Linked DNA regions of Homo sapiens. The protein of the gene in region 1 interacts with the protein of each later gene in a pairwise test. Each region holds a gene or a part of one and is shown on either strand. Other genes may lie near its edges.

Region 1 (7,025 bases):
TGTTGGTGTACACGGTCACCCTCATCAACAAGGTGTGGCCAAGGACTGGGTGCCAGCTCTGGGATGCTCAGGCTCCTGACCTCCCCACCAACCTCAGCCTTGCCTTCTTATCCCCGCCCTCCAGACGCTGGCGGCGCTCCCGGACCAGGACTCCTTCTACGATGTGACGGATGCACTGGAGCAGCAGGGCATGGAAGCGCTGGTCCAGCGCCACCTGGGCACTGCGGGCACTGACGTCGACCTGCGCACGCAGCTTGTGCTCTACGAGGTGGGCCGGGCCTTACGCTCTGAGGCGGATTGGAAAGAGGGAAGAGAGAAGCGCAGTCCCCAGCGCCCCACCCCACCTGCATACACGTTAACCACTTTCTTACATCCTGGTCCGCCTCTGCTAGAACGCCCTGAAATTGGAGGATGGAGACATCGAAGAAGCCCCAGGCGCTGGTGGGCGGCGGGAACGACGAAAGCCTTCTTCTGAGGAGGGCAAGAGGAGCCGCCGTTCTCTGGAAGGCGGGGGCTGCCCCGCGCGTGCCCCGGAACCTGGGTAAGTACGAGCATCTGTAGATGGGAAAGGGTGGATCTACTAGGCATGGCCCAGTGAGCTGACAGGCCCTGACCCCAACCCCCTCAGGCCCCGCCCCACAGACAGCCCCCACCTCCTCCACTGGGCCTGCCCTACCGACATGCCCCACCTCCCGCCCCGCAGGCCCCACCCCACTGACAGGCCCCGCCTCCAGCTTCTCAGGCCCCGCCCCACTGACAGCCCCTGCTTTCAGCCCCACAGGCCCCGCCTCACCGGTAGGCCCCACCTCTTCCACCGGCCCCGCCCTGCTGACAGGCCCCGCCTCCAGCCCTGTGGGCCCTCCCTCCGGTCTCCAAGCTTCAGTGAACCTTTTTCCTACCATCTCTGTGGCACCCTCAGCTGACACCTCCAGCGAGAGGAGCATCTACAAGTAAGTAGGGAGACAGAGGCCACCCTGGAGTCCTCTCTCCCATTGTCCCTCCGCTTTGCGCCCCTCCATGGGCACTCAGCCTCCTCTGCCCAAACGCGTGCTTTCTCTCTCTCTCTTTCCAGACTTCACCAAACTGCTTCCGTTTGGTAAGTGACTGCCAGCGGGTGGGGTTCGGCTCTGACTGGATCTCCTCCTCCTGTGGTTTCCTTTGTCTCCTCCGACGTTCTGCCTGTCTTTGCCTCTTGTCATGTCTCCCGCCCACTATCTGTCACTCCCTTGTTCTGCTGCCTCTGTCTCTTCCAGCACCCTGTCCTGCTCCACGTCAGTCTCTCCCCTCCACTTCCAGTTTCCTCGTGTCATACCTTCCCCCACTTCCCACTGCGGCTGGGAAGGAACCCCAATATCACTGCCTAGCTCTGTGTGGGTATGAGCAACCATGGAGCTGACACCACAGTTACCATCTCTTCCTCTCATCCCCCCTACCCAGGGCCCCTGAGAGCCCACCCGTCCCCCAGTCCCCTCCTGGGCAGGCCAGGCTGGAGTAAGTACAGAGGCCGGCCTGCCAGGCCTGCCATGTGCTCAGGGCTTCAGCATTGCTTCCCCCAGCAGGGGTTTCACGTGCCTGATGCAACCAAAGCTGGGGGACTCAGGCCTATCCTCTCCCAGACATATGCCTCCTCGGTAACCCAAAGGCTAAGCACTGGGAACCAATTCACTGGGGTCACAGTGGTCCCTGTGCTTCAATAGCAACACCTTAGCAGCCAGAGATGGGGATGTGGACACCCAACCTGGGGCTCATTCTGCCAAGTCTTCAGCTCAGAAGCGAGCAGGGAGGGGACCTAGGGTGCTGTGTGGTGTGTGGTGTGGGGGTGGAGGGGTAACCTAAGGCTGAGGGAAAGGCAGGGACTGAGAGCTGACAGAGGCTGGAGGGGCCAGAAAAGAAACACTGGATTGCACCCATTATTTCAGCATAAACTGAGGGTCCACTGTTTACCACATCCGTTTTTTTTTTGTTTTTTTTTTTTTTGAGACAGAGTCTTGCTCGGTCTCCAAGGCTGGAGTGCAGTGGTGTGATCTCAGCACACTGCAACCTCTGCCTCCCAGGTTCAAGCAATTCTCCTGCCTCAGCCTCCCAAGTAGCTGGGATTATAGGCCTGCACCAGGATACCTGGGTAATTTTTGTATTTTTAGTAGAGACAGGGTTTCACCATGTTGGCCAGGCTGGTCTCGAACTCCTGACTTCAAGTAATCCACCCACCTCTGCCTCCCAAAGTGCTGGGATTACAAGCGTGAGCCACCGCACCTGGCCTGTTTACCAGGCCCTTTCCTGGGCATAGGCTCCCAGAAGCTACCAGACATGCCAAGGGAGGGACAGCCTGATATGCCCATTGGGACAGCTATCCCCTTCCCCTGCTCTAAGAGTCCTTGTCTAGACTCAAGACACCAGCCTGGGCAACACAGTAAGACCTCATCTCTACAAAGAAATTTTTTAAAATTTGGCTGGGTGCATCATTCACACCTGTAATCTCAGCACTTCAGGAGGCTGAGGTGGGAGGACTGCTTGAGGCCAGGAATTCAAGGCCAGCCTGAACAACACAGTGAGACCCTGTCTCCTCAAAAAAATTAAAAAATCAGCTGGACGTGGTGGCACATGTCTGTAGTCCCAGCTACTTGGGAGGCTGAGGGTCAAGCCCAGGAGAGTGAGGCTGCAGTGAGCTATGATCACACCACTGTACTCCAGCCTGGGTGACTGACAGAGTGAGACCCTGTCTCTAAAAAAAAAACCAACCAAAAAAAAACCAGGACAGTGAACATGAACGAGGTTGCAAGTTAGATGTTAAGTAGATCCTCTCCCTGTGTTTTCACCTGGGAATGCTGGGTTGGTAGTAATCCTCCCCAGATGTGGAGGACTGAAGAGGGGCTGGCCTTGGGGGGGGTGTGGTTCTGGTCTGCTCAGCGCATGGACTGTTCCCTGTGTGTCTGTGCGTGCCTGCAATTGGGGGTGGTGTCCAGGGGCTCAGCAAGGCATGTACACCTGGGCTGGGGTGTGTCAGACGCTGTCAGTGACAAGCACCTTCCCTCAGAGCCCGGTTCCTGGAGAATGTGGCGGCAGCAGAAACAGAGAAGCAGGTTGCGCTGGCCCAGGGCCGGGCAGAGACACTTGCCGGGGCCATGCCCAATGAGGCGGGTGGACACCCAGGTGAGTAGGTGGGTGAGCAGGCAGAGCCTGCCTGTTGCTTTGTTGCCCCACAGGGGGCATGGCACTGACAGCTCCTTCCCTTTCTTTAGATGCCCGGCAACTCTGGGACTCCCCAGAGACAGCCCCTGCAGCCAGAACACCCCAGAGCCCTGCCCCCTGTGTCCTGCTCCGGGCCCAGCGAAGCCTTGCACCAGAGCCCAAGGAGCCACTGATACCAGCAAGCCCCAAGGCTGAGCCCATCTGGGAGCTCCCTACCCGTGCACCCAGGCTCTCTATTGGGGACCTGGACTTTTCAGATCTAGGGGAGGATGAAGACCAGGACATGCTGAATGTAGAGTCTGTGGAGGCTGGGAAAGACATCCCAGCTCCCTCACCCCCACTGCCCCTGCTCTCGGGAGTACCCCCCCCTCCCCCACTTCCACCTCCCCCACCCATCAAAGGCCCCTTCCCACCACCTCCACCTCTACCTCTGGCTGCCCCTCTTCCCCATTCAGTGCCTGACAGCTCAGCCCTCCCCACTAAGAGGAAGACAGTAAAACTTTTCTGGCGTGAGCTGAAGCTGGCTGGGGGCCATGGAGTCTCTGCAAGCCGCTTTGGGCCCTGCGCCACCCTCTGGGCTTCACTGGACCCTGTCTCAGTGGACACGGCCCGACTGGAACACCTCTTTGAGTCTCGTGCCAAAGAGGTGCTGCCCTCCAAGGTAAATCCACTCATCTGCAAGGTAGCCCCAAGGGAGGCAGGAGGGAATCAGAGCTTAAGGATCTGACCTGTTGGAGCTAGTCACTCACTTCCCACATGGGGAAACCAAGGCAAAGAAAGGAGTAGGAAATTGTCCAAGGTCTCCTAACAAGGGATCAGCAGTGCCCCAACTAGAATCTAAATGTGGCCGGGCATGGTGGCTCACACCTGTAATCCAAGAGTTTGAGACCAGCCTGTGCAACATAGTGAGACATTATCTCTACTAAAAGTTGGTCTGGGTGTAGTGGCTCATGCCTGTAATCCCAGGACCTTGGGAGGCCGAGGCAGGTGGATCATTTGAGGTCAGGAGTTCGAGACCAGCCTGGTCAAATTAGCAAAACCCCGTCTCTACTAAAAACACAAAATTAGCCAAGCGTGGTGGCGGGCACCTGTAATCCCAGCTACTCGGGAGGCTGAGGCAGGAGAATCACTTGAACCCGGGAGGTAGAGGTTGCAGTGAGTCGAGATCGCACCATTGCACTCCAGCCTGGGGGACAAGAGCAAGACTTCGTCTCAAAAATAACTAAATAAATAAAAATAAATAAATGTTAAAAAAAAAATTAGCCGGGCATGGTGGCTCACCCCTGTAATCCCAGCACTTTGGGAGGCCAAGGCAGGCAGATTACTTGAGGCCAGGAGTTTGAGACCAGCCTGGCCAACATGGTGAAACCCCGTCTCTACTAAAAATATGAAAATGAGCTGGGCGTGGTGGCTCATGCCTGCAATACCAGCTACTTGGGAGGCTGAGGCAAAAGAATTGCTTGAACCTGGGAGGCGGAAAAAAAAATGTTAAAAAAAAAAATAGTTGGGTATGGTGGTACACGCCTGTAATCCCAGCTACTTGGGAGGCTGAGGCAGGAAAATCCCAGAAGATAAGCTGCAGTGGGCGATGATGGCACCACTGCACTCCAGCCTAGATGGTAGAGCCAGGCCCTGTCTCAAAAGAATCTAAGCTCATCCCCATGACTTACACATTCCAGGTTGCCAGTTTGTCAGTTGTGGGATCATTTGGCAATCTAGAGGAGGGCCTTGGAGTGCCCTCTGAGGTTGCTGTCCCAGCTAGTCCCTTCCTCAGTCTTTTTTTTTTTTTTTTTTTTTTTGAGACAGAGTCTTGCTCAGTCACCCAGGATGTAGTGCAATGGTGTGATCTCAGCTCACTGCAAGCTCCGCCTCCCGGGTTCACGCCATTCTCCTGCCTCAGCCTCCCGAGTAGCTGGGACTACAGGTGCCCGCCACCACGCCCAGCTAATTTTTTTTGTATTTTTAGTAGAGATGGGGTTTCACCATGTTAGCCAGGATGGTCTCGATCTCCTGACCTCGTGGTCCACCCGCCTTGGCCTCCCAAAGTGCTGGGATTACAGGCGTGAGCCACCGCGTCAGGCCCCCTTCCTCAGTCTTACACTGCCCTTCCCCCAACCATGCAGAAAGCTGGAGAGGGCCGCCGGACAATGACCACAGTGCTGGACCCCAAGCGCAGCAACGCCATCAACATCGGCCTAACCACACTGCCACCTGTGCATGTCATTAAGGCTGCTCTGCTCAACTTTGATGAGTTTGCTGTCAGCAAGGATGGCATTGAGGTGAGGTCACCCAGCTATGGGTGTTGGGGGGAGGTCTGGCCTTCTCCTTTGGTAGGTGGGCATTTCCTGTCCCTCTGGTGGTGGGCATGGGCTTGGCATTTCTGCAGGGCAGTCCCCAGACACTGGGGCCTCCCCTAGATGACTGAGGGGTCAAGACCAATGCCTCAGGCCTCAGGCCTGCATTGAGGGGGCCATGTCAGGCTCTGGCTACATCCTCAGAAGCTACTGACCATGATGCCCACGGAGGAAGAGCGGCAGAAGATTGAGGAAGCCCAGCTGGCCAACCCTGACATACCCCTGGGCCCAGCCGAGAACTTCCTGATGACTCTTGCCTCCATTGGCGGCCTCGCTGCTCGTCTACAACTCTGGGCCTTCAAGCTGGACTATGACAGCATGGAGCGGGTACCTGGGTCTTGGAGTGGGACAGTCAGTAGGGACAGGTAAGCATCATGACCATGTAGTCTGAGAGTCCCTGGTCTCCCATACCAGGAAATTGCTGAGCCACTGTTTGACCTGAAAGTGGGTATGGAACAGCTGGTACAGAATGCCACCTTCCGCTGCATCCTGGCTACCCTCCTAGCGGTGGGCAACTTCCTCAATGGCTCCCAGGTGAGTGAGAGTACATGGGGACTAGGGGGAGTCAGGGTTCTGGAGCCAACCAGGCCCAGGCTCAGAAAGGGTCCTTTCAGAGCAGCGGCTTTGAGCTGAGCTACCTGGAGAAGGTGTCAGAGGTGAAGGACACGGTGCGTCGACAGTCACTGCTACACCATCTCTGCTCCCTAGTGCTCCAGACCCGGCCTGAGTCCTCTGACCTCTATTCAGAAATCCCTGCCCTGACCCGCTGTGCCAAGGTTAGCACCTGCCAGAATCAACCAAGGCCGGACAAGGCATGAGGAGCGCTGCTTCCTGGGCCTGGCTCCTCCCCCTTCTCCCCATTTGGGCTGCTGTGCCAGGGCTTGCTCCAGCCACCTGGGTGTGAGCTATGCCCTCTGCCAGAAATGCTCTTTCCTCTATTGGCCTGGCCACACCTACTCAGTCTTTGGGTCTGTTTAACTGCCACTTCCCCCAGTAAACCTTCTGCTCCCCATTCACATCAGATGGACTTGTGTCTCTTGCACTAGTCTATGAGATTTGGATGTCTGTGTCCTTAGGGCCCAAGCTGGCCACTCTGGCCCAGAAGCAGCCTCGGGCCATGTCTTGTCTACAGGGTGTGGGGGGACAGTATGTGCACCCCCTTGCTTTCTCAGGTGGACTTTGAACAGCTGACTGAGAACCTGGGGCAGCTGGAGCGCCGGAGCCGGGCAGCCGAGGAGAGCCTGCGGAGCTTGGCCAAGCATGAGCTGGCCCCAGCCCTGCGTGCCCGCCTCACCCACTTCCTGGACCAGTGTGCCCGCCGTGTTGCCATGCTAAGGATAGTGCACCGCCGTGTCTGCAATAGGTAGGGGCATGGACCCAAGAGAGGCAGGACGGCCACCACCCTCCCTCAGACAATAAGCAGGACTTACTGTCCCTCCCTACTCTGACCTGCCTAGGTTCCATGCCTTCCTGCTCTACCTG
Region 2 (7,025 bases), on another chromosome or scaffold:
TCCTTCTGCCTCCTCAGTCCCCAAAGAGGATACACAGCTGCAAGGAGCAAACACAGACACACTGAAGCTTTTGATTCCTCTCCTTTTTTTTCCTTCAAGACCCTCCAGGATGGATTCACTTTCTGCTTTGGGAAATTAAGTGGCATTCACGTGGGGGAGGGGGAGTAACTGCTTTTATTAGCTCCAGAAAATGGTCAGTGTTCAGTCTGTAACTAGGAATTAATTATATATAATCACTCAGTAAACTTTCTACAGAGTTTTTCTAATTGCTGAGCCTGATCATAGTTAGCCCGTTGGCGCCAAGTCCAGTTACTTTTATAATTAACAGCTCAAAGATTTGAGTCAGAAAGAAACAATTGGGGGCCTCTTGGATTATAAATTAGGGATGAAAACAATAGCTTTTTTTCCTTTCTTTCTTGTCATCCCTTTTATTTTCAACAAAACATTTCCCCTTTTCTTTCCCTGGGAGAACCAGTGGGGAGACTGCATCAGGTCTTAAATAGGATGAGGGGGGAGACACTTTTTAGGAAGTGGGGTGACAGTAACCTAGAAAACCCTGGAGGCAAAGGTAGGTTTTTAAAAGTCCAGCCACTTGCAACGCGTGATGTCTTTGTTTCTTTTGCCCTCTTTCCCCTTCTCTCTCCTGTGGCAGAGGCAGCAGACATTTGTCAGCCTGGGAACCCTCAATCTGGCTTTGCCTCTGGTTGACTCTGGAAAGAAAGATACATTCAAAGGGGCCTTCGCTACTGCACAGCAGAGATTTAAAAAGGGAATATGTTTCAGAACCCTTTGGTTACTCTTAAAATGCAAGATCTGAGCAAGGGTTCACCCTTGGCTTCAGGTTGCTAAGGTTATGGTCACCCTCCCCGCTACTTCCCACTCTCCTTGCAGACAAACAAACAGGCAGTGGCCATGCCAGCTCTGCAGCCAGTGTGCTGCCAGCCTGTCCCCCCCATCCCGATTACCTTACCTACCGGCCGGCGGGGGCCAGTGGCCCGTCCTTGCCCTGGCATGGCCTTGGGCACTGTGCCCTCCTTTCTCCCCTGGAGCTAAAAAGCAGTCACCTTGAAACTCCTCACTCCCAGCACCAGAGGAGTTCTGAGGCCAATGCTCAGACCTGTAACAGTAAATGACGTTATCCACTCAGGCTGTTAGTTCGGCCTCTGAAAGCGGGTTTTGCAAAACCCATTGTTAATTCTCAGGCTCTGTTGGGGGTGGTCAGAAATCTAATTTGTGAGTATCCTGTGCATTGGATAAGGGAATGTTTTCCTTGTGTTTCTCCTCTGCAGACTCGGATTGTCTTTCCTTGATGTTAACTGTCTTAGGACTGGCTGCTTCAGAGGGCTGGGTATTTGGTGGCTGTTTGCAGGCTTATAAACAGCCTTTTTATTTTACCTTTGCCGTAGACTGAGGTGCAGCCCTTTAGCTTGGCTTTTCAGATGCCTGCTGTCCTTGAAGCACTTTCATTTTACCTAGCGCCTTTTTGGTATGGATGCAAAGCTGGTTTCTAATAGACTGAGAAGAGAAGGGGGACCGGGCTTCCTCCTTGCCTTCCCCCAGGCTGCTCCCTGGGAACATTTTTGTGTTTGCACAGACACCTGTCCGTCTGCAGTTTGTGCCACGGGGCTGCACGATTCCTAACCTTCTACCCACCTAATTTGAGGGCAAGGGGGCCTCATCACAGAGCCTCATGTTGAAGGCTCAGGATCTACAAGAGAAGGCTTTTCCTTAGGAACCTGTGACTTCACAAACTCTCCCTGTCATTGCAGAGTTTTTTTTAAGCTTCTAAACGTTGGGTTGTTGGTGTCCTTTGGTTCAGCTTTTCCTAGTTCTGGTATTTAGGAAGGTGGCTTTGAAACTCGCAGGGCTGCTTAAACAAGAGCTACAGCTATTGAACAAACTGCTACCATTTTAGCTTCAACACAGGAATGAGGCAGTGTTGCCAGACGCCATTTTAAGAATCCTGCATAAATAGCTTAGCTACCGATGACTCTGCCTGTTTTAGGTGAGTGCTTATATAAAGCTGCTCTGCTAACCATTCCCCCCCACCCCAATTTCTTAAAAAATTAATTGTAGATTTAGGGAAGCATGGTTTTTAATTTTGATGTTCACTATTTTGTAATCTAGAAGAGGAAGATGTTATGCCTTGGGGATTAAATATTTCTTACAGCCTGGACCATTTTGGTATTTTGAATGAAAAGTAAAAACCAGGAAAAGTCCTTTCGAATGATGCATGATTCTTGAATTGCTGTGCGATGATCCTCATCTGTAGAACCAGAGTCTTGTGCATGTTGGTTATATATTCTAGATGGCTTAGATACTCTTCTTTAAAAGTCAAATAGTAGGGGCACTTGGGGAAAAGAAATATGTGGGCATTGTGTATTCAGGCATTTTTCTGTCAAAACTAGATGCTTTCTTTTTTCTCTCTCTTGGAAGTGTTGAGGAGATGAGATTCCTGGGAATTACGGACCATCCCTGAGTCCTCAGAATTAACAATCAGAAGGCTTAAAGCATCCTGGAGGTGCAGTAGTTCATCTGCAACTTTTAATTGCTCTTTTTTCAGTGCATGCAGGTTAAGAAGTAAGCATAGGTTTTCTTGCTCAGGCACTGGGGGAGAAATCTTTTATTCTTTTTGGGATGGGATGGGGTGGTCTTGGTTATCTTTGCAGGTACTGTTATTTCTTTGAATTGCCTCAAATGTATCAGTTTGTGAAATCTGCAGGCAAATGACTTGGGTAAATGTGAGTGTAAGAGGTGGTGGTGTATACAATGTATCTAACTAGTTGATGGTGTATTTTCCTATTGGAGTGAGAAATTGTTTGCTTTTCAGCTAATTTTACCCTTTTCTGTAGCGGGCCCCCAGTTTCCTCAACAGACCTTTAAAGGGAAAAAAGTAATGTCAGTTTGAAACAAGAGCTTGTTGTCCCATTGTTTTTGATTTAAATCATCAGGGTTGCTGGAAGCTAGCAGATATGGAAGGAAATAAGCTGTCTATGTTCTAAGACTTTAATGTGTTAATGACAGAAGTTCAGAGTATTTTCTCCAGATGCAGCTGCCTTTTCTTTTTAAGAATTATTTGACTGTTTTTTTTCCCCCAAATGACTGAACAGTTCTTAACCTAAATTGACCAACATCAGTGGGGCAATTCAGACAGGTACAGATCTTTTCTTGCGCCTACTTTTGATGTAATATTCATTTTTTTTTCCTAATAACATACTAGTTCTTAACACTAAATCAAAAAAAAACACACACACACACACAAAAAAACCGAAATCAGTGGTGTAGGAAAAAGGAAGTCCCTTTAGATGTGGCTATTCAAAATGACTAATTTTGCATTCTGGTCTTTGCTTTTGTAAATGAAGTTTTTTTTTTTTTTTTTTTTTTTTCTCCTTTTAATGCATAGACACTGCAGTTTCCTTTAGTCAAATACAAGTTAATTGTGTGTGTGAGTGTGCGTGCATGTGTGTGCACGGGTTCCTTTTGAAAGGATGGTTTGCTGATCTGTGAAAAAGATGGTTTTCTTAAATTGTTGTGCTTGAAATGCTGTGCTAAAGCTGGTGGTGCTATTGCTAAAGTTGGGTGATTATGGTGCCCACTTGTAATACTTGGAAAGATAAAACAGCTTAACTTTTTTTTCCCTCTCTCTTCTGCTCCAGCATTGATTATCTTAAAACTCAGAAGCAAATAGCCACCACATAACTAGTTTGCATTTTCCTCGTCTCTCAGCAGCATTCCTGCCTGAAGTATTCAGCTCCTCTAGGCTGTTACAAGCCAAATAATGGTTCCCTTGAATGCAGCCTTCCTCCATGATCAATACACCTTTGAATGTTTTCATCGCTGCAGAAATCCTTCAAGTGGGTTTTTTTTGGCTCAGTTCTGCATAATTGTTTCCCTCACCACTGTAGATTTCAGTTGGATCACAGATTAGCGTTTTCTCTATTACTCAAAATATGGGATCGGTTTCAAGAAGTTTAGAATTTCACATACTTCATGCTAGAGAGGGAAACAGAATTCTAGTTGCTAGAAAAGATCAAGGTTGCTATTTGTTCCTTTGAAGTTAACTGTCTACCCATCTCCGAGGGCTGCATGGGGCTTTTTGTTAAGATGTATTTCCAGTCACCCCAAGCCAGAACCCATCAACAGCATCCAGTTGGACAACCTGTGTATGTTTCAGGCAGAGTGTTTCTGAGTTGAGAATGTTTTCTCCTTAAGTTGGAATAGAAAGCATTAGTGCTGAAATAACCTTCAATAAATCACCGTTGTATTATTGCATATAAGCGATGTGTTTAAATTTAGCAGGCTGCTTTCTCCTGATGAAAACCATTTGTGACAACATGTCAGTTGTTTCTTTGGTGATTTGTGTCACAGGCTTTCTTTACAGATGCGGTGTAAATGAAATTGTTAACGGGGTTCAAAATCAGATGGCTAAATGTGTTAATATTCTCATTTAAACCCAACTACCTTTCTTCGTCTCCAAGCCCCTATAATTTAACTCTGAACTATAATCTTTTCCATTCTATCTAGCTCCCATCCTAAGTCCTCTCCTCCTAACGTGGAACTCTCCTAAAATCTTCTCCTTATACTAGGGTTCGAGACATGAGGCTGTCTTTTTGGGCCTTTTGCGTTGTCACAGTCCCAGACCACGGAACATTCTCTCTTCCCCAGGACAGGACATTCTCTCTTCCCCAGCCTCCTTCCTGTCCTGGCGTTGAGTCTTCCAAATGGAAAATTCCAGCCATATCAATTGGTGATGCACCCATTTCTTCCTGTGGAACGACAGTCTGATGGAATTGCTTCTGGAGTAAATGCCCAGCTTCTTACCACTTCAGTGTCAGCCTGAATGTTTGGAAAGTTCTAGCACCTCAAACCATTTGCATCTATGAAAGCAGAACTCTATTTTTTCCCTTTGGTTTAGCTTGTGAGTTCTCTGTGGGAGGAAGATCTGATATGGCCGGCTCTCTTTCAACCCTAGTTCCAGCAGAGAGAGAGAGAGAATGTTCTGGGTGACGGACCCTCCCAGCAAAGGGGCTTGCTTTATTTGCTTCTCTCCCCAACCCTCCACTCTTAGCCTTTGTCTTTTGAATAATCCTTCCTCATTCCACTTTTGTGGTGGGGGATAATTAGTCACAACTCAGTAGTAAGCCGTGCCTGCTGTAGAGAGGAAGCATTCAGGGGGTTGGAAGTGTGGAGACCCCAGTCTGATTGCTGGAATCAGTGCTCCTCGGTTCAGTGTTTTGAGACCAGGTCTTTAGCTTCTAGCTGGGCATATTTTTCTGCTTTGTAATTTAACCTGTATCTTTTTTTTCCCATGTTCCTGCCTCATCAGGGAATTGTAAGATTTAGGGGGAGGTGTGGGAAATCTTACTCTTTGCCCTAAAGTATTCAGCGATCAGAATTCTGGATACCCTGCAAAACACCTCCAACCTCCCTGCCTTTGAACCCTGTGTTAACAATGAGAAGCTTGTTTATTTGAAGGCTGGGTTCTCATTGGCCCACAGGGGTAGGTTGTAATTGTGTGTCTAAAAAATTGCCTTTTGCATTCCCCAATAGCATGACAACTGGAATAGTAATTTGACTTAAAAAAAAAAAGAACAACCTAGTGTTTTAAAAAACTCCTTTAGGACTCTTCACACTTTGTTGAAATCAGGTGTGGGTTTCCTCCCCCAGCCCTGGATAAGGATGAGGGAATGTCTTTAAGGTGTGTTTGTTGCTAGAACTTCCAAATAGCTGCCCCCATGGGGCAAGTTCTCAGCCTTCCTAAACATGAACATAATTTGCTCTGTTTCAGCTTGGCTGAAGAGGAAATAAAAACAGAACAGGAGGTGGTAGAGGGCATGGATATCTCTACTCGCTCCAAAGGTGAGTAAAAATCTTGTATTATCTATTCTAGAGCTAAGGAGGAAATTGGAATTTCTTTTTGTTGTTGTAGTGCAGTGAAGTGTGTGGCTCTCTGAGCCGACGTTGTAACTCTTCTTGGATTTTCAGATATAAGATTTTTTGATGGATGAACCTAATTGATGGAGAACTCTCCTCCTTTTGGTTTTCTTTCCCTGGTGCCTGTGTAGGGGTCCTGACAGTGAATTTTACCTGTGTGTCATGACTGAGGGTGGCTGGCTACCTCTCCGCAGGGTGACTTTCAGGAGCCACAGTTTAAATAAAGCATGTTCTGGAAGCCACCAGAGCCTCTAGCTGCTGCTCGTTTTCTGATTTTAACAACAGACCTCTTTGGAATCCCAGAAGTGGGATGAAGTCAGCCCGCTTCACTGGAAAGTGGTGGTCTTGGGTTAGAGATAAAAAGGAAATGTAGAGCTTGCTGGGATGCCGGGGCCAGTGTTTGCATTTAGTTCAAAATTTAGCAAATTAGGACAAACACAATTTATGCGTTTATTCACAAGCCTGGAGTAGACTCCTGAATATCTTCTAATTGAGGGATTGGTACTTTTCATTTGGTCTTTGTGAAAGAGATTTTATGAGGCTTCCCAAAATGAAGCAGTTATTCACTTTTACCTTCAGGGTGCTTTCACAAATGAGCTACTGGAGTATTTTTCGTATCTTTGGTTGATGAAAAGGCTCATCTCCAAACTTAATGGTTGTACCAAGGTGTTTTCATTCCTTCAACAAGTCACTGAGTGCTTTCTTGGAACACACAGCCTTGCACTGGGGGTTATGGGGAGGGAGGAAGAGGCTGGACAGGGTTACTGCATACTGCCGGAAGGAGATTCTCATTTGGCTGCAGAGTGTCGCACAAAGTGACTCCCTAAAGGCGTCTGAAACCAAAAGCATTTTGAGGATTGTTACAAGACAGCGTGTCGCCAGGCGTGGTGGCTCATGCCTGTAATCCCAGCACTTTGGGAGGCCAAGGCGGACCATCACGAGGTCAGGCGTTCGAGACCAGCCTGGCCAACATGGTGAAACCCCCGTCTCTACTAAAAATACAAAAATTAGTCGGGCATGGTGGCACGCGCCTGTAATCCTAGCTACTTAGGAGGTTGAGGCAGGAGAATCACTTGAACCTGGGAGGCGGA
Region 3 (7,025 bases), on another chromosome or scaffold:
CATTTGATACCCAAACACTGCTAGGTACATAGGAGTAAATATGTAATATTTAGCAGTAAATATTTCTTTGATGAATGAATCTTTTCCTTTGTTCATTACACAGATCCCTTCTAAGCTCCTCCCTAGACTTTTCCTCCTAAACTGTGGCTAGTTAAGCCTCATGTTGTTCTATCCCAATGACTGTTTACTCCATTTGCATGTGGCCCTTCCCCTTAACTGGAGCTCTAAGCAATGCTGTAGTTCAGTCTCAGCAGAATCCTCTCTAACTCTTGGTAGTTAAGCCATACCACTGGCTCATGATCATCCTTGTGGTCCCCAAAATGCTAATGCTCTGCAGCTTCCTTTTTATTTTTTATGTCTCCCCTAATGTCTTACTGAAAGTTACGTGTTTACTGGCTTCACACATTTTGTCTCTTTTCATTAAGACTAATATGTTCTGCAATATTAGTTTCTCTTCTCATTAGTATAAGAAGTTTCTCTTCTGATTAGTACTTTATGTAACTGTAACAAGATTCCTGTGTTAAGATTATTTTGTAGCCTACCATGATATTTAAAACTCTCTATTAATATTGCTAGTATGGGAATGAGTAGATATTTTAATTTTGGGGTTAAGGATAAATAATGTGGAATCATTTAGTCAGTCATAGAAGCAAAAATTTTGCTCCCTTTGTTTTTATTTTATTAACTCAACCAATAAAAACCCATTTTGTAAAAGCAAATGTCTCAAATTTTTGTAAACATCCTAACGACCTCAAATGTTTATACTTATATTTGACAAATTTGTATGTGTTTTTCTCCAGGAATGAGTTGGAACATTTGCAGTATAAGGTATTGCAGGAAAGAGAGAATTATCAACAGTCTTCTCAATCAAGCAAAGCAAAATCAGCAGTACCTTCCTTTGGTATAAATGATAAATTTACACTAAATAAAGATGATGCCAGTTACAGCCTTATCTTAGAGGTACAGACTGCAATAGATAATGTCTTAATACAGGTAAGCAAAATGTCTAATTTCTTAGTTTTATGACTGGATCTATTTTGCAAACCAGTCATATGTACTAATTATTATTGAACATTTTTAGTTTTAGACAGTAATTTTATTTTATTTTTATTTTTATTTTTATTTTTTTGAGACAGAGTTTTACTCTGTCACCTAGACTGGAGTGCAGTGGTGCGATCTCAGCTCACTGTAACCTCCGACTCCCAGGTTCAAGTGATTCTCCTGCCTCAGCCTCCCGAGTAGCTGGGACTACAGGTATGTGCCACCACACCTGGCTAATTTTGTATTTTTAGTAGAGACGGGGTTTCACCATGTTGGCCAGGCTGGTCTTGAACTCCTGACCTCTGGTGATCCACCCGCCTCGGCCTCACAAAGTGCTGGGATTGCAAGCGTGAACCACCCCACCCAGTCATAGACAGTAATTTTAAATGTTTATGGCCTTTTATTCTTCCTTTAGATAATTGGTTTGCTCACAGATTATTTGAATTATATTTTTACTTTTTATTTATGTACTTAACAAACAAAAGATGGGCTTCAGTTTTAAGAAGAGTTAGAAAAGACAGTAAGGTTTTTCTTCTTTGGCTACCCTCTGGGAGAATCTTAACAGAGATGTGACTTAGAAAACTACCATATTTAATGCCCTTGCTAGAACATTTTTTTTTAAAGCCCCAAACATTAAAGTACAGCTTGCTCATTAACCCAACAGTTTCTGGTAGGTCAACAGGCAAAGTAGAGAATACTAAAGGGTGAAATTTAGGGATAATAATATATGACTCCATTCATCAATGTATATATTTACTGACTTATTTAAATTAGAAGGTATTCAGGAAGTAGAAAAGAATAATAGGATGAATAGAAAACAAACAAAAGGTAGTAAACCAATCACAAAATGAGAACATAACAAATTGGAGGAAGAAAAGGTTTAAAAAGATGTAATGGAGAGATCAGATTATTAAAAAAAAAACCTAAAGGCAGAAAACTCTCTTAAGTAATGCTAGCTCACGGGCTGTTGCATTGAACAACTCTAGGAATGCCATTCACATAGGACAGTGCAACAGCTTTGTCCTACAAACTGCCTCTCCAGAGGAGACCAAAAATTATCTTCTTTCTGTGTTACAGGTAAAATTAAAACTGATAAAAATGAACTGATACAATCAGAATGGCCATGTGATTATTTATAGCTCATGGTAACATTTTTAGCACTTTATAAAAATAAGTGGGATGATTGGACTTTTAAGGGGGTGGTGAGAGATGTTATTCTGTGATTTTTATAATCCAAGTTAGAAAAAAGCAGGTGATTGTAAAATAACATTTATTCTTTATTATATTTATTTTCTGGAAGTATATACTATCAAGTATAAGTTAAGAGAATTCATACTCTCAAATTTAAAGATGAATATAAACTAGAACTAAGGAGAACTCTTAGAGAAAACATAATTTATGAACATTTTTAGGTTTTCCATCTCAACCTTCTTTTTTTTTAATATTGACTATAGAGTGATGTTCCAATAGATTTACTTGATGTGGATAAAAATTCTGCTGTTGTTAGCTTTAGCAGCTGTGATTCTGAGGTGAGTAAAAATATAAAAGAATTCTTCACATGCTTTCATTTCTATTATGCCATTTTGATTAAAGTCTATAGATGCTGCTAGGTTTTGATGTTTCTTTTTCAATTATTTCTTATGTAACCTTTCCTTCAAAATCTGTGTCGGTTCTCTTTCCCTGTCCTCAGTCGAGAAACCTGATGTCCTAGATTCCTTCTTTTCTGTGATCTGTTACAGGTTGATATCCCTTATGTGAAATGCTTGGGACCAAGAAGTATTTTGGATTTTGGATTTTTTTCAGGTTTTGGAATATTTGTTTTGTATTTACTGGTTCAGCACCCCAAATTTGAAAATCTGAAATCTGAAATGCTCCAATGAGCGTTTCCTTAAAGTATTATCTTGGCACTCAAAAAGTTTAGAGTTTTGGAACATTTTAGATACTCAGTTTGGGAATGTTCAGCCTATATATCCAATTAGTCACTAGTTTCTGTCAGTTCTACCTCCATGGCTTTCATACTTCCACTTGGCTTCATTCCTACCCCTGTTAACTTAGTCCAGGCCCTTATCATGTCTTGCTTGAACTACTTTATAAGTTTCTCTGCCTCTAGTCTTGCCTCTGACTTCTAGGATATGCTGTATGTACACTACCACCAGAGACGTCTTCCTTCCTAAAACACGAACATCACTGTATCTTTCTTTTCTCAAAACCTTTTCAATATTCCTGATTTCCTGCTAGATATAAATATAGATTCCTTATTGTGGCATAGAAAACTTTCCATGATTCAGCTCTTGATTACATCTCTAACTTCTCTCTCACCGGCTGCTACCACCCCTCCCATGCACATTATTTCTGCCAAACTGAAGTTCTTAAAATTCCTGAAAATGCTATATAGTTTCACACATCCCTGCATTGGAACATGATCTGTTGCTTCCCCCGCTCTTCCTGCCCTGCCCCACTTTTTCTAGGCTTGTTGAATGCATACTAAACTTCATTCAACAGACTTTTATTGAGCACTTAACGTGCACAGTACCTGAGATGATCACGTCAGTGCTTTTGGACATGCTTACTGTATCACTTCTTTCTGCTTAGTACTAGCCGATAAGCAGTCTCAGAGCTAGGTGTGACTCCTGAAGAGAAGTCAAGGTATAGATAAGGTTTGGATTAATTGCATTGTAGAAGGCAAGCCAGAGCAGGAGGAGATGGTAACTGGAGTTGGTGGTTAGTTATATTAATATATATTTTATTTTATTTATATGCATTGGCACTGTTGCAGAATATATTTTATTTATTTGGTTTTTGTTATTTATTTACTTTTTTAAGACATGGTCTCGCTCTGTTGCCCAGGCTGGAGTGCAGTGGCGTGATCATGGCTCGCTGCAGCCTCGACCTCCTTGGCTCAAGCAGATCCTCCCACCTCAGCCTTCCAAGTAGCTGGGACTACAGGCACAAGCCACCATGCCTGGCTGATTTTTAAATTTTTTGTAGAGACAGGGTCTTCCTATGTTGCCCAGGCTGGTCTCAAACTCCTGGGCCTAAGTGATCCTCCCACCTCAGCCTCCCAAAGTGCTGGGATTATAAGCATGAGCCACCACGTCTGGCCTTATATATATATTTTTAAAAAGGAGGAATAAAAGAGTAGATAAAGTAAAATATTGATAGATAAAAGAATAATTTTCTTTTTCTTTTTTTTTTTTTTTTTTTGAGATGGAGTCTCACTCCTCACCCAGGCTGGAGTGCAGTGGCACAATCTCAGCTCACTGCAACCTCCGCCTCCCAGGTTCAAGCAATTCTCCTGTCTCAAGACTCCCAAGTAGCTGGGACTACACGCACACGCCACCACACCCGGCTAATTTTTGTATTTTTAGTAGAGATGGGTTTTTGCCATGTTGGTCAGGCTAGTCTTGAACTCCTGACCTCAGGTGATCCACTGGCCTTGGCCTCCCAAAGTGCTGGGATTACAGGTGTGAGCCACTGTGCCCAGCCTGTTTTTCAATATAACTTCATAGTAAAAATTTTATTTTTAATAAGCGATTTTATAACAGTTGTATTATATTATCAATATGTGGTTTGTCGTTCCTGTTTGAGAACAAAACACAAAAGATATGGCCTACATTTTTATGATTATTTAGAAAATCAGTAAACTTAAAACAAACTTAAAATCTTTGATTCTTAAGTTACTATGAAAGATTAATCTGTTTTAATTACATCACTGAAGGATTCTTTGAAATGACTATTTGATACTAATTTAAAATATATTTTCTAGGACAATGGCTTTAAAAAAACGTATGGAGGTTTCAAGTATACACAAAAGTAGAAAGACTAGTATAATAACTTGCATGTACCCATCACTAATTTTCAACATATGGTTAGTCTTTTTTTTTTTTAAAAGATGGGGGTCTTACTGTGTCACCCAGGCTGGAGTGCAGTGGCGTGATCATAGCTTATTGCAGCCTGAAACTTCTGGGCTTAAGCTTATCTTCTTGTCTCAGTCTCCTGAGTACGTAGGACCATAGGCATATGCCATGATGCCCAGCTAATTTTTTTTATTTTTTATTTTTTGTAGAAATGGGGCCTCACTTTGTTGCCCAGGCTGGTCTTGAACTCCTAGCTTCAAGCTGTCCTTCCACCTTCCAGCCTCCCAAAGTGCTGGGATTACAGGTGTGAGCCACCATGCCCAGCCCAGTCATTTTTTCATGCTCTTCACCCTCTCCTTCCCACTCCCAAACCTCATCCCAAACATGTTATCTGTATCATTTATTGATAAACACTGTAGTATATAACGTTTGCTTTTAATCATACAAGAACACATTTACGGCTTGGCACCGTGGCTCATACGTGTAATCCCAGCACTTTGGGAGCCCAAGGCAGGTGGATCACTTGAGGCCAGGAATTCAAGACCAGCCTGGCCAACATGGTAAAACACCCTCTTTACTAAAAATACATAACAAGTAGCTGGGTGTGGTGGCATGCACCTGTAGTCCCAGCTATTTGGGAGGCTGAGGTATGAGAGTCAGTTGAGCCCAGGAGGCAGAGGTTACATTGAGCTGAGATCACACCACTGCACTCTAGCCTGGGCAACACAGCAAGACTCTGTCTCAAAAAAAAAAAAAAAGAATATATTTACTTTTAAATTGATCAGTCCTCTCTGTTGAGTTTAAATGATTTGAAATTGAAATGTTTGAGTTTTATATTTTATATTACCATCCTTTTTATTTCTTTGATTATTTAATAAAAATAGAGAAATAGCAGTCTCAAAAATTACATATAAATTATCTTATGTTGCTGTGTCTCTTTTTGTAATCCATGAACCTAGCTACATTTCTCTATTTCTAGTAGTTTAATATTCAATTTCAAGAAGTTATAATATTTGAAAAAACTCCTCTAGGTTAGTTCAACAAACATGTATTAAGCACTTACAGTATGCCAGGCACTGTGCCATTTGCTGGGAATACAGAGAAGAGATATTTCTCTTTCCTGTATAAGTATTTGTGAAAAATCTAAGAGATTCAATATTAAACTCTGGTGTATGTGCCTTTACAGTATAAACATTTTGTATTAGTCCATTTTCACACTGCTGATAAAGACATATCCAAGATGGGACAATTTACAAAAGAAAGAGGTTTATTGGACTCACAGTTCCACCTGGCTGGGGAGGCCTCACAATCATGGCGGAAGGTGAAAGGCACATCTCACATGGCGGCAGACAAGAGAAAATGAGAGCCAAGAGAAAGGGGTTTCCCCTTATAAAACCATCAGATCTTATTCACTACCATGAGAGCAGTATGGGAGAAAATGGCCCCATGATTCAATTATCTCCCACTGAGTCCCTCCCACAACACATGGGAATTATGGCAGTACAATTCAAGATGAGATTTGAATGGGGACAGAGCCAAACCATATCACATTTGGTGTTTGCATTGTCAGATTTTTAGAAGAATTCTTAATGTTTAAAAATGTTATTGTAAAAACTCAAGATGGAAAGAGCATGAGCTTTCGATAGGAATTTGAATTCCAGTTTCATCACTTAATGGCTTTTATTTAACTCCTCATAACCTCAGTTTCTTCATCTGTTAAAATTTAATTAGTAAAACTTAGTGCATAGAGTTTTTGTAAGTGTAAGTTAGAACATGTTTGAAAAGCGCTGAGCACCAATGACAGGTGCTTAAGCAAATGGTAACCATTATTATTATTGATGTCTTTTTTTTGTTGCTAAAAACATGGATTCATTCTTTTCCTCCACTTTGTATTCTTCCCAGTCAAACGACAACTTCCTTCTTGCCACTTATCGGTGCCAGGCAGATACTACAAGGCTGGAACTCAAGGTAAAAATATTAGAAATTACCTTTACTTGAATGTTTGAATTTCCTTTTTCCTGCTGGTATGTCTTACAACATATGATATTATTTGTTTGCATTTAATTTCTCCCTGAAATGAATTGTTTGGAGTAATGAATTTTGAATGACCAGTTAGGATGTAATTTA
Region 4 (7,025 bases), on another chromosome or scaffold:
TCTTCTTTTAGACCTGGGCTGGTAAGAAGTGCTGAAGATGTTTTTTAGAGATTTGTGGTATGACAAATTCCACTGGGGTTTCTGACCTTCTCAGTCATGCTTGTCTTGGGGTCACCACTCCTTGGCCCTCTCCTATGGCACCTGTCCCTCATTCTGCTCAAGCCCCTATGCCTTCCCAACAACTTGCCTTTAGCTCTGGGCAGATGTCTTTGCTTGCACTTGTCACAGAGAACATGAAGGCTCTCTGCTGTTTTGTGCCCATGCACATGCCTCTTCTCTGTCTTTACCTCCTGTCCTCCAGGCTTGGAGGGAGAGCACCTAGCTCCCATCATTTTCTTGTACACTCTCCCTGTCCCTCTGGATGCTACGCCAGCATTTTCCCTCCCCTACTCCTTCACCTCCACATTTTGTCTTTCTTTACTGTTCCTTTCCTGCAGAAATACATGCCCAAGTTGTTCCCATCTTAAACACAGACAAATGAAAAACAAAAGGATTTAAGTTTTGTCTATACCACATTTTCCTTTAGTTTATCCCTATGTTTTTTCCTTGATAAACTACTACATACCTTCAAAGAATAGTCTGCAGTCCTTGTTTTCTTTTGTTAACTTTCCATTTCTTCTTTGGGCCCCTGGAATCAGGCTTCTACTCTCACTATTAAAGTCACTGGTTCCCTGGTTACCAAATGTAAGGGTCTCTCTAGGCCTCATTTTACTTGACCTTTCTAAAATATTTAATGCTGGCCACTTTCATCTTTATGAAAGCTTTAGGTTTCTGGGATGCCACTCCTGATTTTCCTACCTTTGGTCCATTTCTTCTCCTTTGCTGACCTTCTTCCTCTGGCCACCCAGCTCTTAAATGCTGATCCTCCCTGAGTCTCCCTTTCGATAGTCTCATTTATCTGCATGGTTTTAATGACCATATCTGCACAGGTGATTCGGAAACCTGAATCTTCCACCCAGATCACTCTCTTGAGCTCTAAACCCACGTAACATAATCCTTTTAACAATTCTACAAAATAGCACTGTTTCCCACATTTATAGGTGAGGAAATTGAGGCTAAGAAAGGTAACCTGTTTGAAGTCAGTGGAAAAGCCAGGATTTTAACGTCTACCTAAAATCAGGCCTTTAACTCTATTAATCAAACATCTCCACCTGGTTATCTGACAGATATATCCTACACTGAATGCCATCTCATAATCCTGTTCTCCTTCCTTGCCTCAAAAAAAATTAGAAAATGTGAAAGACTATATTCTCAATCTCAGTGAATGACATTCCTTCTTTTCAGTTATACAAGTTGGAATGTAAAGGGAATTGACATAGACTTTTCTCTGTCTCCTACCCTGCAGGTCCATCTAGCCCGAGGTAGTATCAGTTCTTGTGCATCTACCTTTTTGACGTGACTTGTAATCATACCCTCCTCTTTATTCTCACTGCTACTGACATAGTTAAGAACTTTATCTTGACTGTTATTGCCATTATAGTGACAGTCTAACTCACTGCTTCTCACATTATCTGAGCTGAAGAACCAGGGTTTATTGTTTCTGTTTTTTTAATTTTTAATCTGTTGCAGAAATTTTGTAGCATATAAAAAAATTAATTAGAAAAATGAAATGAAAAAAGACATACAAAAATAGCTCAGTTTTATACATTATTAAATTCAATACACATAAAAATTACTCTGTCAAATTGTCATAAAAGTTTTTGGGTACTAATAGTCTATGTATATCCTGTCCCAGATGGGTCACACTTTTGCACATTGGCACTGGTCCACAAACAACATTGAGGAATGCTAGTTCACAGTATCTGATGAAAAGAAATGTCTTCAGTTCTCTTAGATTATAACCACATGGGCCTATGTTATTTAAAACTGAAACATTTCAGTAGAAGGTTCTTTGCTTTGACTTATAGATAGCTTCTATATGTGGATTTAAGAGGTTTTAGAAAATTCCCTGTTTCTTTAGGATCCCTTCTTTCAGTAGGAATAAATCCCATCGAGCAAGGGGTAATCATGTGTTATGTTACAATTTAATGCCAAAATCAAAGTGTACTGACTTAAGAATCAAATCAACATTTTCTTAAATAGGCTTGAAGTACCTTCATGTATCTTCATGGGATACCTGTAATAAAAGTGATTTTCCCTGATTTGATATATTTAACTTGATATGATTGTGCATACAAAAAAAAAACTGTGCTTCTATATTGCACAGTGAAATATAGCAAATGGGTTGATGTGATCTCCATTTCTGAAAGATTAAAATTCTACGTTGGTATTATTCTGACTGGGAGTGAAATAATAAAAGTAAGTTATTTGGATTTAGGCAGGCATCTGACTAAGCCCTTGTCAGAAGATTTGAAATTAATGACATGCAGACAGGAGATACCAAATTGTCAAACTGTAGAATATCTCTTGGCTTTAAATGGCATGGCAGAAGAATAAAAAAACACAGCAACAAAGTTCTAAGGGGACAGAATTGAGAGATTGGAATGCTCTAAATATTAAGCTGAGATTGTACCTGGAGTTAGTTCAGAAATATAGTAAATAAAACCATGCTGTACAGAACCCATTGTTGTCTGCAGTAGGCCTGACACAGAACAAAACACATGGGGCAAATGCCTGAGAGCATAATCTTCCCATGTGTGGTAAAAAAGTCAAAAAAGGCCTTTTTAGACATTTTTAAATTAAAAAAAAAAATTAAGCTAGTCTACAGCAGTGTGCCAGGAACCAAAAAACTACTACAGAAACTTTCTAATCATTAAGAGTTTTAAAAGCAATTTTAAAAAATTGAATACAGCAATATTTGCTCTGTTAATGAAGTGTATGACCCAAAACACTATTAACTATCAAAACAGAACATACTTTTTTTTTTTAACAAGAAATTGGGGCACTATAGGAAGTTTAGGAGATTATATTCCCAAAAGCAGTATGTTAGAACCCTTCTTCTTTCATAGTAGATGGGTAGATGGCAGAATGCTAAACTCATACCTAGAAAATGATTAGAAGTTTTATTCAAATAAAAATTTTAAAGTAGCATAACTTGTATACAGTTCAGGTTGGAGAGGAGTCAGGAAAAGGTAACCTCATTGTGATCCATATGCTCCCCAAAGCAGAAATGGGTGAAGTGAAATGAAAAGAAAGTTTATTTTTTAAAGGTAATAAAGACAAAGGAAAAACAAAAAAACATAACTTTTCTTAATTTGTGTTGTAGCAAGTTAAGCTGAGGTACGGAATACCAGGTGGATGGGCATGGGAAAGGGAGATGATGACACTGCAAGCAGAGGGAAGAGAAAAGAAAAAGAGACATGTGGAGGATAGCGTGGAATAGCTGCCTGGCCTGTGCTCAAAATAGTAAGCAGTTTGGGATGGCCAGAGCATACTCAGGAATGGTATTTAGTGCTGGCTGGGATCTGACCATGGAAGATGCTTATACCAGTGCCTCTCAAACTTAAGTGCACGTGAGCACCCGAGGATTTGTTAAAATTCGTATTCTAGGTGGAGACTTCAGAGGCTGCGTTTCTAACAAGCTGCAATGTGATGCAAATGCTGCAGGGTCACAGGCCACACTGAACAGCAAAACTGCAAATTTTATCCTAATATTTATCAATAATATGTTTTATGGATGAAGAGTTTCCACCATTACAGTGTTTGTTGAATAGCACAAAATACATAGCATTTATCTTAAGCTAGATATTCAGTAGTTTTTTGTAAGCTTTGCTCTCCTGATGGTGAAATAATACTCTTAGCAACTTCATTGCCAGGTATGAAATAAATAATTCAGGGCTCTCATCTTTTATTGAATTAGTTTGAGTAGAGGGATGCAATATAATGAAAAGAGCATAAACTTTTGAATCAAATTTTTAGACCTGTGCTTTAATATCAGTTTTATGACTAAATAGCTGTGTGACTTTATGAAGACGAATTAATCTATTTCTCTTTTTCTATTTTCTCATGTCTAAAATAGAATACTTGCCATTTTATAGGATTGTTGTAAGGGTTAGAAATGATAGGTATAAAGTATCTTCCCTTGTAGGGAAGATTAGTGGAGGTTTCAATTTGATAACTTTTGAGATCCCTTAAAAACTAAAATTGTATGAATTTTAAATAAAAAACATTGAACGATCTAATCCTAGGAAGTACTGATATATGGGGGATTATCGACCCTTCTACTTCTAGAGTCTTTTTTCTCAGTGATTTTGGCAAATCGGAAGGTGTGGTTTGTTGTAGTTTGTAAAAGCTCCCACTGAGATCCACTAACACTCATGGTGTGCAGTATGGTTGTTTCCCATGGAAATATGTTGTACTTCTGAAAGCCATGGAAGCATGAAAAACAGATTGAATTATAATTTTATCTGACTTTTATTGTCTTTTGATCTTTTTAAAAATCATTTCTTGCTTATGGAAATTTCCCATATAATTTGCTGCTTCCCATTTGCTGTGGGACAGAAACATTCCTCTTTCAGGGGAAAACAATAACCCATCCTGTTGCTTAGCCATACTCAATCTTAGAAATGGGCATACCAGCTTGTGGTGCTCCCTAGAGAGAATGAGACTCAGGGATGAGACCCACAAATACCTTGGAAGCAGATTTGAGGCCTGTTGGACAGAAATTCTGGGATTGCAGTGCCCAAACCCTAGAAGGGGAACCGTGGACTGTAGGTGGGCACATCCCTTTGATCCTACTGACTCCTCGCCTGGTGGGGACAGACATAGTCAGAGGAATGCCAAAACAGTGCCCTCTCAAGCCCAGGGCAGGGTCCCAGGTTGTGGGGCAGGAGTATATTAAGGAAATTAGTATATTATCTCAGCTAACTTTTTAAAAATATAATAGCCTGTTTATTTAGCTTTCTTGTTTCATAACTGTGGTATACTTTTATTTATGTTTTAGTTTTTAATGGATGACTCAATGGTATAAACATCTTATTTAATTCAGTAGCTCTGAGATGGAAATAAGTCTTAGTGACTTAAAAAAATTCTTAGTTTAAATGTGGTCTAGGTAGAAGACATGTTATTAATATTATGAGCTTTTTTTTTTCTAACTCTGTGCCTTGTTCTTATGTTTTGGTTTTTTAGATCGGCTTCAGCTCCCCAGGAATATGATTGAAAACAGCATGTTTGAGGAAGAACCAGATGTGGTGGATTTAGCCAAAGAGCCTTGTTTACATCCTCTAGAGCCTGATGAGGTGGAATATGAGCCCCGGGGTTCCCGACTGCTGGTGCGGGGTCTTGGTGAGCATGAGATGGAGGAGGATGAAGAGGATTATGAGTCATCAGCAAAGCTGCTGGGCATGTCCTTCATGAATAGAAGCTCAGGCCTTCGGAACAGTGCAACTGGTTACAGGCAGAGCCCAGATGGGGCTTGTTCAGTACCCTCTGCAAGGACCATGGTGGTCTGTGCTTTTGTCATCGTGGTTGCTGTTTCTGTAATCATGGTGATTTACTTACTGCCCAGATGTACCTTTACCAAAGAAGGCTGCCATAAAAAAAACCAGTCAATTGGACTAATTCAGCCATTTGCAACAAATGGGAAATTGTTTCCATGGGCACAGATCAGGCTTCCCACTGCCGTTGTGCCACTACGCTATGAACTCAGCCTACACCCGAACCTAACCTCGATGACATTCAGGGGTTCTGTGACAATTTCAGTTCAGGCTCTTCAGGTCACATGGAATATCATTCTTCATAGCACAGGTCATAATATTTCAAGAGTGACCTTTATGTCAGCAGTTTCAAGCCAAGAAAAACAAGCTGAGATCCTGGAATATGCATATCATGGACAGATCGCCATTGTTGCCCCCGAAGCCCTTCTAGCAGGGCACAATTATACGTTGAAGATAGAGTACTCGGCAAATATATCTAGTTCTTATTATGGGTTTTATGGCTTCTCCTACACAGATGAAAGTAATGAGAAAAAGTAGGTAGCCCTCTTAAATGATTCTGGTTTTACGCTCTGATAACTTCTGCAATATAGATCCCTTTGTCCACACCAGAGACACGAATTGTGATTTTTTTTTTTAATTTAGGAAGTTATATACAAAATAGTAGAATGGTGATTTAGAACAATATATTATCTCTCTTAGTCAACGCCTTGAGCATATATCATGGTGGGGTGGAGATAGGGGTGTGCTGGTGGAAAAGGATGGATAAAGATTATATCCAAAACTTGTTATCTTGAGTTTTTCACATTTTTAAGGTGAATCTAGTTTTCTGTCACCTCATGAAGTCTGTTGGGAAGCAGAGTAAAGAGGAGTTATTCTTTAAGACCTATTTTCCTAATGTGCAGAACTTTTAGGAGGTACTTAGTGAAATACAGAAAGAGGGCATGAAGAAGTGTGAAGTGTGGTGTGCTTACATATATCATTTTTAATATCCTTAATCTTTACTGGTTTATTATTTTTTAAAATGCCAGTCTATTTTGGATTTCTGGTGTAAATTTTTTTTAAGGTCTAGGAGAGACTTAATTTGGTTCAGAAAAAAAGGTGAGACAAAATATAAAATTATTCAGCTCCCTATTTGGACTATATATTTAGTACTTTAATCTTAGCATTCATAGCATGTAGTTTGAAATTCTGGGAAGATGGAGTTCACACAGTATGGAGGTTATTCTTAAGTAGCAGTGATATCAGTTGTCTTGTGCACAAAATCCTCACGACATCTGCTTTATGCAATTGGAACATTCTCTCATATTACTCTGTAAAACAATATGTGAATTACTGATGCTGACCATTTGGCTAATGTATGTTGACATATTAAGAGAAATAGTTAGAAATGAGTATTCTACATCTAAAGGAAACTTTTTGATCCTTCTTAAATGGAGAAAGAGACCAAGCAAGATCCATAATTCTATTCAGATAAATAATTTTTATTTTATTTTCCCTCTATGTAATACTTTTAAAATAAATGGCATACTGGCCCTGCATTTCAATTCTTGCGTGAGATCTGGGATTGAACACAAATGTATAATTGCAATGGGAACTTGAAAGTTCTTGCCTTTAGTTCTCCTTCTATAATGCCTATTATCCCCAGGAAAT

What was found.
Region 2: the proteins of FHOD1 (region 1) and ZMYND8 interact in a two-hybrid assay, tested with the Homo sapiens proteins (one study listed by BioGRID).
Region 3: the proteins of FHOD1 (region 1) and BBS7 interact in a two-hybrid assay, tested with the Homo sapiens proteins (one study listed by BioGRID and IntAct).
Region 4: the proteins of FHOD1 (region 1) and LNPEP interact in a two-hybrid assay, tested with the Homo sapiens proteins (one study listed by BioGRID).

Annotation. Positions count from the first base shown.
Region 1 is NC_000016.10:67,230,482-67,237,506, reverse strand, and holds part of FHOD1 (FH1/FH2 domain-containing protein 1), read left to right. Parts: coding exon 1-32; intron 33-124; coding exon 125-268; intron 269-392; coding exon 393-541; intron 542-773; coding exon 774-950; intron 951-1,072; coding exon of another isoform or gene 1,073-1,096; intron 1,097-1,437; coding exon of another isoform or gene 1,438-1,491; intron 1,492-3,034; coding exon 3,035-3,150; intron 3,151-3,239; coding exon 3,240-3,850; intron 3,851-5,312; coding exon 5,313-5,468; intron 5,469-5,668; coding exon of another isoform or gene 5,669-5,687; coding exon 5,688-5,870; exon of another isoform or gene 5,871-5,871; intron 5,872-5,957; coding exon 5,958-6,077; intron 6,078-6,157; coding exon 6,158-6,319; intron 6,320-6,715; coding exon 6,716-6,906; intron 6,907-7,000; coding exon 7,001-7,025. UniProt on the Homo sapiens protein: Required for the assembly of F-actin structures, such as stress fibers. Depends on the Rho-ROCK cascade for its activity. Contributes to the coordination of microtubules with actin fibers and plays a role in cell elongation.
Region 2 is NC_000020.11:47,346,690-47,353,714, reverse strand, and holds part of ZMYND8 (MYND-type zinc finger-containing chromatin reader ZMYND8), read left to right. Parts: exon of another isoform or gene 1-710; intron 711-974; exon of another isoform or gene 975-1,154; intron 1,155-1,965; exon of another isoform or gene 1,966-2,005; intron 2,006-2,436; exon of another isoform or gene 2,437-2,521; intron 2,522-3,726; exon of another isoform or gene 3,727-3,825; coding exon of another isoform or gene 3,826-3,854; intron 3,855-5,788; coding exon 5,789-5,859; intron 5,860-7,025. UniProt on the Homo sapiens protein: Chromatin reader that recognizes dual histone modifications such as histone H3.1 dimethylated at 'Lys-36' and histone H4 acetylated at 'Lys-16' (H3.1K36me2-H4K16ac) and histone H3 methylated at 'Lys-4' and histone H4 acetylated at 'Lys-14' (H3K4me1-H3K14ac).
Region 3 is NC_000004.12:121,839,472-121,846,496, reverse strand, and holds part of BBS7 (BBSome complex member BBS7), read left to right. Parts: intron 1-800; coding exon 801-993; intron 994-2,495; coding exon 2,496-2,570; intron 2,571-6,800; coding exon 6,801-6,866; intron 6,867-7,025.
Region 4 is NC_000005.10:96,974,071-96,981,095, forward strand, and holds part of LNPEP (leucyl-cystinyl aminopeptidase), read left to right. Parts: intron 1-5,067; coding exon 5,068-5,908; intron 5,909-7,025. UniProt on the Homo sapiens protein: Release of an N-terminal amino acid, cleaves before cysteine, leucine as well as other amino acids. Degrades peptide hormones such as oxytocin, vasopressin and angiotensin III, and plays a role in maintaining homeostasis during pregnancy.